Linked DNA regions of Homo sapiens. The protein of the gene in region 2 purifies or fractionates together with the protein of the main gene of each other region. This does not show direct contact. Each region holds a gene or a part of one and is shown on either strand. Other genes may lie near its edges.

Region 1 (3,646 bases), on a different chromosome or scaffold from region 2:
TCACACCACTGCACTCCAGCCTGGGCAACAGAGTGAGACCCTGTCTCTTAAAAAACAATAAGAAAAGAAAGAAAGAAAAAGAGAGGAAATAAGACTGAACTGATAAGACATGGAAGTGGGTGAGGGAGAAGGACTTCTAGGTTTCTGACATGTATAGCCAGGGGATGGTGGTAACCATTCAGTGCGACAGTTGACATCAGAGAGTGGGGGAGGTGACAGCACCATTGGGGGCAGCTGCTGGAGCATCTAGGAAGAGGAAGGCATAAATCTGAATGGCACTCAGGGCTATCCTAATGGATAGAGAGCCTAGGGCACCATGTGGCTTGAAATCAGGCATGCAGTCGAAGTCCAGTGCATGCTGGTGAGTGAGCTGGTGATTCCTACCTCTGGGGATAAACCTGAACAATGTTGAGATCATTACTTGATTACTTGATATCTGATTTTAGGAAAGTATAGAAAACTCGAGGCAACTATTGTGCACAAATGAAGATGTTTCCAGCCCTGCCTCGGCGGACCAAAGGGTATGTTTCACGTGCTCAGGTCTGGCTGGTTGCCCTCAGATGGTTCTGCCTGCATGGTCTGAAGTCAGGTGGAATTTGGCCATTAATCTCTGTCTCCGTCTCTTTTCTTTCTTTTTTCCTTCCCTTGGGAGCCACTGTTCTATTGGCTATTAATGCTGTCATTGTTATATACTGCCCAGAGGACCAGCTTTGCAAAACTGGGTTAGTTTTTTAAATGTAGTTAGAATTCTGTCCCATAAACCAGACAGCAAGTTTCCTCCTACACAGTGGATATTTGTGGGGATTCCCTGCAGCTGATTCCTGGAGCCCAGTGGCAAACCCCAGAATTCAGACAGGGCTCTGACGTCAGAATTCATTCTCCACTGCAGGCAGCGTTCCTGCCGATAGGCTCAAACGGACTGTTCCTTATCTACCTTGCAGTATGTGGGGCTTTCTGGAGCTCACAAACACCAGCTCCTCAAGACAGCCTATGGAGAGCTCACATATTTAACTTTTTCTAAGAATGTGCTGGGGACCCTGGGCTGACAGCTTGGCTCTGTTGCAAGTAACTTGACTGATGGCATGGTGTGTCATCAGCACACAGCCTGCTCTGCTCTGAGCCAGAGGCAAGCCGGATTCGGGGACTCATCTGAGGGATAAGTTAGGTGTTGGTATTCTCCAAGGGTAGAGACAGGACTTTTTAATGTTCTGGTCCATTTCTCTGTGTGGCTCGTCTCTTTGCTTGTCATTAGTTCATTTGTTTATTCATATGATCCATTTATTTTGATTTGTTCTGTCAATGTGGTAAATAACAGCTCTGGCCTTCACTCTCTGAAAGGTAGAACAAATGTGGTCCCAGAAATGAGACAGGCAAAGAAATTCTTTGCTGTTGAGCCACCTTTAAAAGCTTTTTTTTTTTTTTTGTTTTTTTTTGTTGTTGTTGTTGTTTTTTTAAGGCTGGGTGTGATGGCTTAACCCTGTAATTCCAATGGTTTGGGAGGATGACTTGATGCCAAGACTGCAAGACCAGCCTGGGCCGTATAGCAAGACCCCATCTCTACTAAAAATTAAACAACTAGTTGGGAATGGTGGCGTGAGCCTGTAGTTTCAGCTATTCAGGAGGGTGAGGTGGGAGGATCGTTTGAACCCAGTAGTTCGAGGCTGTTCTGCAGTGAGTGATGATTGTGCCACTATACCCCAGCCCTGGGTGACAGAGCAAGACCTTGTCTCTTAAAAAAAATTTAAAATGAAACAAAGCTATTCTTTTTTCTCCTTTAAGATACAAGAAGCTTGGAAGCGGAGTCTTGTAAGTTTCAGCCCCTTCCTAATTTTTAGTGTCCTATAATAACAAAACCAGACATCCAGCTAACCTTGCATCTCTCCTTTTGAAGGCAACAGTGCATCCCGACAGCAGCAACCTGATCCCCAAGCTTTTTCGACCTGCAGGTGAGTTGGTTCTAATTTTCAGAAGTGGGTTGGGAAGATGTAGTTTCTAACACTTAGAAAACTCTGCCTGCCGGATCACCTGGGGTCAGGAGTTCGAGACCAGCCTGGCCAACATGGTGAAACCCCGTCTCTACTAAAAATGTAAAAAATTAGTTGGGCATTGTGGTGGCACGTGCCTGTAGTCCCAGTTACTCAGGAGGCTGAGGCAGGAGAATTGCTTGAACTTGAACCCGGGAGCCGGAGGTTGCAGTGAGCTGAGATCATGCCATTGCGCTCCAGCCTGGGCAACAAGAGTGAAACTCCGTGTCCAAAAAAAAAAAAAAAAAGAAAAGAAAACTCTGCCTGCCTTGCTTTAATTATTTCTCCCCCAGCAGGATTTCTTTCTTTTTTTTTTTTTTTGAAACAGTGTCTTGCTCTGTCACCTAGGCTGGAGTTCAGTGGCACAATCTCGGCTCACTACAACCTCCGCCTCCCAGGTTCAAGTGATTTCTCCTGCCTCAGCCTCCTGAGTAGCTGGGATTACAGGTGCCTGCCACCATGCCCAGCTAATTTTTTTCCTTTGTGTATTTTTAGTAGAGACAGGGTTTCACTATGTTGGCCAGGCTGGTCTCGAACTCCTGACCTTCTGATCCGCCCACTTGGCCTCCCAAAGTGCTGGAATTACAGGCGTGAGCCACTGTGCCTGGCCATGTTATAGTAATTTTATGTACATACTTTATTATTATTGTCATTTTTAGAGACAGGGTCTCGCTCTGTTACCCAGGCTGGAGTACAGTAGCACCATAATAGCTCAAAGCAGCCTCCAACTCCCAGGCTCAGCTGATCCTTCTACCTCAGCCTCCTGAGTAGCTGGGACTACAGGGTCATGCCGCCACACCTGGCTTTAAATTTTTTATGGAGGTGGGGGTCTCGCTACCTCTACAAAATAGAGGCTGGTCTCGAACTCCTGGCCTCAACCCATCCTCCAGCCTCAGCCTACCAAAGTGCTGAGACCTTGACCCCCCACTTTATTAGAAAAACAAAGAATGAGTGGAAAAAGTCCTTTGAGGTCTGTGCCTTCTGGAAGCTGGGGAAGAGGTGTTCAGGTGGGTAGTCCCCTTCTGGCCCCCTCTGCCTGGGCAACTGTGATCACTGACACCTCCTCTCTTCTCTTCCTGCCAGCGTTCCTGCCTTTCATGGCACCCACGGTGAGCAAGCAGACATTTGCCGTTAGGAGACTAGGGGCTTGGGAAGATGGCCACTCTCCTCCTAACCTCAGCTGTGTCCCTCCAGCTCCGGACCCCTGTCACATGACTGCCTGATAGATGGTTGTGGATCCCCACTGATAACCCATGGCTGCTGTTCATACGTCCTTGTCCCCACTCCCTCCCCCTCCCCACACCCTCCCAGTCAGGCATCCGGGCCTCTGGAAGGCCCACAGCTTGGCAAGGTCATCCCTTTTCTGAACACCAAGTATGCGCAGAGCACGGTAGAAGCGGCCAGTGAGTTAGGATGAGCTCCCTGCACAAACCCCTGGCCACCAAGTCCTCCTCTGACACAGCCCCTCACCTGGGACCTGGCATTGTCCCTGTGAGGCTTTTCTCACCTTGGCCCTTGGGAGGTGCTTTTTGGTTTTTTGGGTTTTTTTTGTTTTTCGAGACAGAGTCTGGCTCTGTTGCCCAGGCTGGAGTGCACTGGCGCAATCTCAGCTCGCTGCAACC
Region 2 (3,646 bases):
CATCCTCCATCAGCTGGCCAAGCTGGACACAGGATGGGTCTGGCCCCTGCCCACCTCCCTCAAGAGCGAAGACCTCTGGACACGTAATTGCATCATCTGGAGGGAGAAGGAAGCACATGTCTCTGAGCACCCAGCAGGACACCTCCAGCGGGGTGGGGACCTGGGGGGGTGTCACCTGAGCCCCTGGGATGGTTGCACTGAGCCCCACGGCACACCATGTGTGCTCATGGGCCTCAGCTCATCTGTGCACCACTCACATCCCCTTAGAGACAGGGAAATAGGGTCAGAGAAGGGAGGCGGCTTTCCCAGGGGCACAGCTGTAAGCAACAGGACCCAGCCACCTGCTGAGCCGTGCTCCCCTCCACTGAGCGGGATGCCAGCAGGACATTTAGACAAGCAGGGGGTGAGAGGAGGACGCCCAGGTGGGCAGGGCTTGAAGGCACTAGGGAGCCAGTGAAGGGTGTTGAGAAGTGGAGACATGGCTCAGGTTTGCCTTTTAGCAAGAGATTCCTAGTATCAAACTGGGGCGGGATGGGAGCTGGGAACCTACATGGGAGATGAGGGTAGCCCCACTGGCTGTGGCTCTGGTGTGGTCAGTGGGGGAGGCTCAGTAGGGGTGGCATGAGCCGGCCCCAGATGTCCAAGGTTCATAGGTATTCTTCTAGATCGTGCGGCATGCAGCTCACTGCCAGCACCTCCAAATGTCCTTCCTTCTGGGTGTGCCACCTGTATGCTCTGTGCCAAGTGATGGAGCCCTTCGGGGGGTCCCTGCTCGGCTCCTCCACAGGGGCAGATATGAGCCTCCCTTGGGGCCCTGAGACTACCCCCCCAATCCTGGCAGGAGGCCAAGCTTGCTGGGGATGCACACCCTGCCCAGAGGGAGGCCGCAGCTCCTAAAGCAGGAGAGAGGGAGAGGCTGGGCAGAGATGCCTCCGGGGGCAGCATGGGACTGTGCTGGGCCTGCAGCCATGTGGGCAGATCCCAGGTGGCCTCTGCAGGAAGGGGCACAGAGAAGCGGGACAGAGTGCACATGTGCCTGAGGGACAGTGGGCACAGGAAGCTGGTGTTGGCAGCCTGTGTAGGATGGGTTGCCGGGTCCTGAGCCTGAAGGGTGGGAGACAGAGCTCCAGAAACAGGCCGGGCTCGGTGGCTCACGCCTGTAATCCCAGCGCTTTGGGAGGCCAAGGCAGACCAATCACCTGAGGTCAGGAGTTCGAGACCAGCTGACCAACATGGAGAAACCCCGACTCTACTGAAAATACAAAAAAAATAGCCAGGCGTGGTGGCACATGCCTATAATCCCAGCTACTTGGGAGGCTGAGGCAGGAGAATCGCTTGAACCCAGGAGGCGGAGGTTTCGGTGAGCTGAGATTGTGCCATTGCAGTCCAGCCTGGGCAACAAGAGTGAAACTCCGTCTCAAAAAAAAAAAAAAAACACCAAAGTCCCCTTCCCATCTCCCTCACCCAGGCCCGAGGGCCAGCCTCGCCCACGACCCCATATGAGAAGGTGACTGGATATGACAAGGGCTTGACCCCGCCCCCCATGTGGGCCCTTCCTGCCTGTATCCCTGACCTGCCCTTGCCTCTTCTGGTCCTGGCAGCCGGCGGCGGCAGCAGCAAGACCTCATGCCACAGTGCCGTGACTGGAGGGCGGTGACCACGCAGGATGCCGTGAACCCCATCGAGAGCCTGGACACCTGGACCGAGTTTGTGGAGGGAAAGAATAAGGTACAGGCCAGCCGCGCTGCTGAGTGCCCAGGGAGAAGGAGAAGGGAGGAGAGAGAGGCCATTACTGCCATGTGGTTTCCACCTGGCTTCCAGAGTGCTGGGCAGAGCAGCCGAGAGCGGGTGACCTTCCTGCAGTCTGTAGGCCTCGGCCACCCTGCCTGCAGAAAGGTCAGAGGGCCAGTCTCCGGCTTTGTGATGGAGGGCGGACCTCTGGCGGCTTCCCAGACAAGGAAGCTGACATGCAAGGCCACCTGGCCAGGCCATGAGCCCCTGAGGCCCACAGGCCCCAGGACCAGGAGGGGACAGGGCTGGAGGCTGACCAGGTCTGCACAGAGGGCTGCTGAGCCGCTGGCGCAGCCTGGGGGCAACGCCGAGAAGGGGGTACTGAACAAAGGCACCTACTTCCTCCAGTCACTTCCTGTTTTCCTACACACCTCCAGAGCCTCTTCCTGTTCCAGTCCTGGACAGGAAGTGCCCAGCTGGGGGTGGGGTGGGGGTGGGGGTCTTTGGATGGTAGGCAGGGCCTGTGGCCCTCTCTCCTCCCCTGTGTCTCAGGCTTCCTACTCCCTGAGGCCTCAGTCCTTCTGGGAGCCATCCCCACCCCTCTCAATAACCCTGGGCCTCGGGATTGCTGCTGAGGACAGTTCTGGGCTGAGGAGGCCATCTCACGAGGATCTCAGCAAGCAGCGACTGGATTGGGCCTGACCCCATCCAGAAGTGACTGGCTTTTGCTGTGACCCAGGCTGAATTCTCACCCTGGCTTGCACTGACGCTGGTGCCCCCTCAACATAGCCACGGCCAGAGGTCTCTCTGGTCCTGCCAAAGGCTGCCCTCTGACGTCACTGCAGCCTAGGCCAGCAGTCCATACACTGTCCCTTGACTTTTCTGGGCAGCTACCTCTCTCTGCTGCCCAGGGGCCTTCTCTCCTCTGCCTCACTATCCCTGGTCCTGTGAGTTTTGGTCTTCTCCAGCCCAAAGCCTCAGTTTCCCCCATGATTGGGGGGGGTGGTGCACAGCGACCTCCTTGCAGAAAGACAGGGCCCAGGTTGGGAGAACTTGGGCAGGAAATGGATCCTTGTGCCTGTGCTCTCCCAGACTGTGAGCAAGCTGGTGATCCAGAATGCCAACGTGTCTGCCATGTACAAGTGTGTGGTCTCCAACAAGGTGGGCCAGGATGAGCGGCTCATCTACTTCTATGTGACCAGTGAGTGACCAGACCAGGGCGGGGAGGCCTGGGTACAGGGTCAGGAGGGGGCAGGTTTGGGCTCATTGAGTTTCTGGGGTCTTTGGGACACCCAGGAGAGAGATCCAAGGCCTACCGGTTGTAGACAGGAAAAATAGATTTAAGGGTCACCAGCATAGGGCCTGGGTGCTGGCGCACTGGGATGGAATGGCATCCTCTGTCCCCAACCCTGGGGCTCCTCCCTCAAGGATGCCCTTGGCTCACTGCAGCTCCTCCTAGCTATACCCACTCCCACCCTCCCCTTCCCAAGCCCTGAGACCTTGTGACTCGTGTGAATTTTGCTCTGGGGAGAAGCTCTGTGGTTTACTCAGATTTTCAAATGTGGTAGTGACCTCAGGAGAGCGGAGCCCAGGAGCAGACGTCACTGGGTCCCAGAATGTAGATCAGGGCACCAGCAGAGAGATGTAGATCAGGGCACCAGCAGAGAGATGGAGCCCAAAAGAACACCCGGGGGCTGGGGGGCCACAGGAGCCTGACCAGAAGTGACCAGAGAGACAAGAGGAAGTGGGCGCACGGCACTGGGAAAAGCCAGGGAACACGTTATTTCAGGCTGAGCATGGGGTGGGGCATGGCAAGCTTCAAGAGAGAATGAGGACTCAAGTCCCACTGAGGGTGACAAGGAACTCCTGATGACCTGGGCTTTTGGTGGGGCGGGGGGCAAGCAGTCCAGCTGGG

What was found. Proteins that work in one complex are often made in the same cells at the same time.
Region 1: the proteins of FLT4 (region 2) and SFXN4 purify together in Homo sapiens (affinity purification with mass spectrometry; one large-scale study listed by BioGRID and IntAct). This does not show direct contact.

The regions. Positions count from the first base shown.
Region 1 is NC_000010.11:119,159,215-119,162,860, reverse strand, and holds part of SFXN4 (sideroflexin-4), read left to right. Parts: intron 1-446; coding exon 447-521; intron 522-1,779; coding exon 1,780-1,806; exon of another isoform or gene 1,807-1,891; coding exon 1,892-1,946; intron 1,947-3,107; coding exon 3,108-3,133; intron 3,134-3,646. UniProt on the Homo sapiens protein: Mitochondrial amino-acid transporter. Does not act as a serine transporter: not able to mediate transport of serine into mitochondria.
Region 2 is NC_000005.10:180,622,017-180,625,662, reverse strand, and holds part of FLT4 (vascular endothelial growth factor receptor 3 isoform 1 precursor), read left to right. Parts: intron 1-1,601; coding exon 1,602-1,728; intron 1,729-2,823; coding exon 2,824-2,932; intron 2,933-3,646. UniProt on the Homo sapiens protein: Tyrosine-protein kinase that acts as a cell-surface receptor for VEGFC and VEGFD, and plays an essential role in adult lymphangiogenesis and in the development of the vascular network and the cardiovascular system during embryonic development.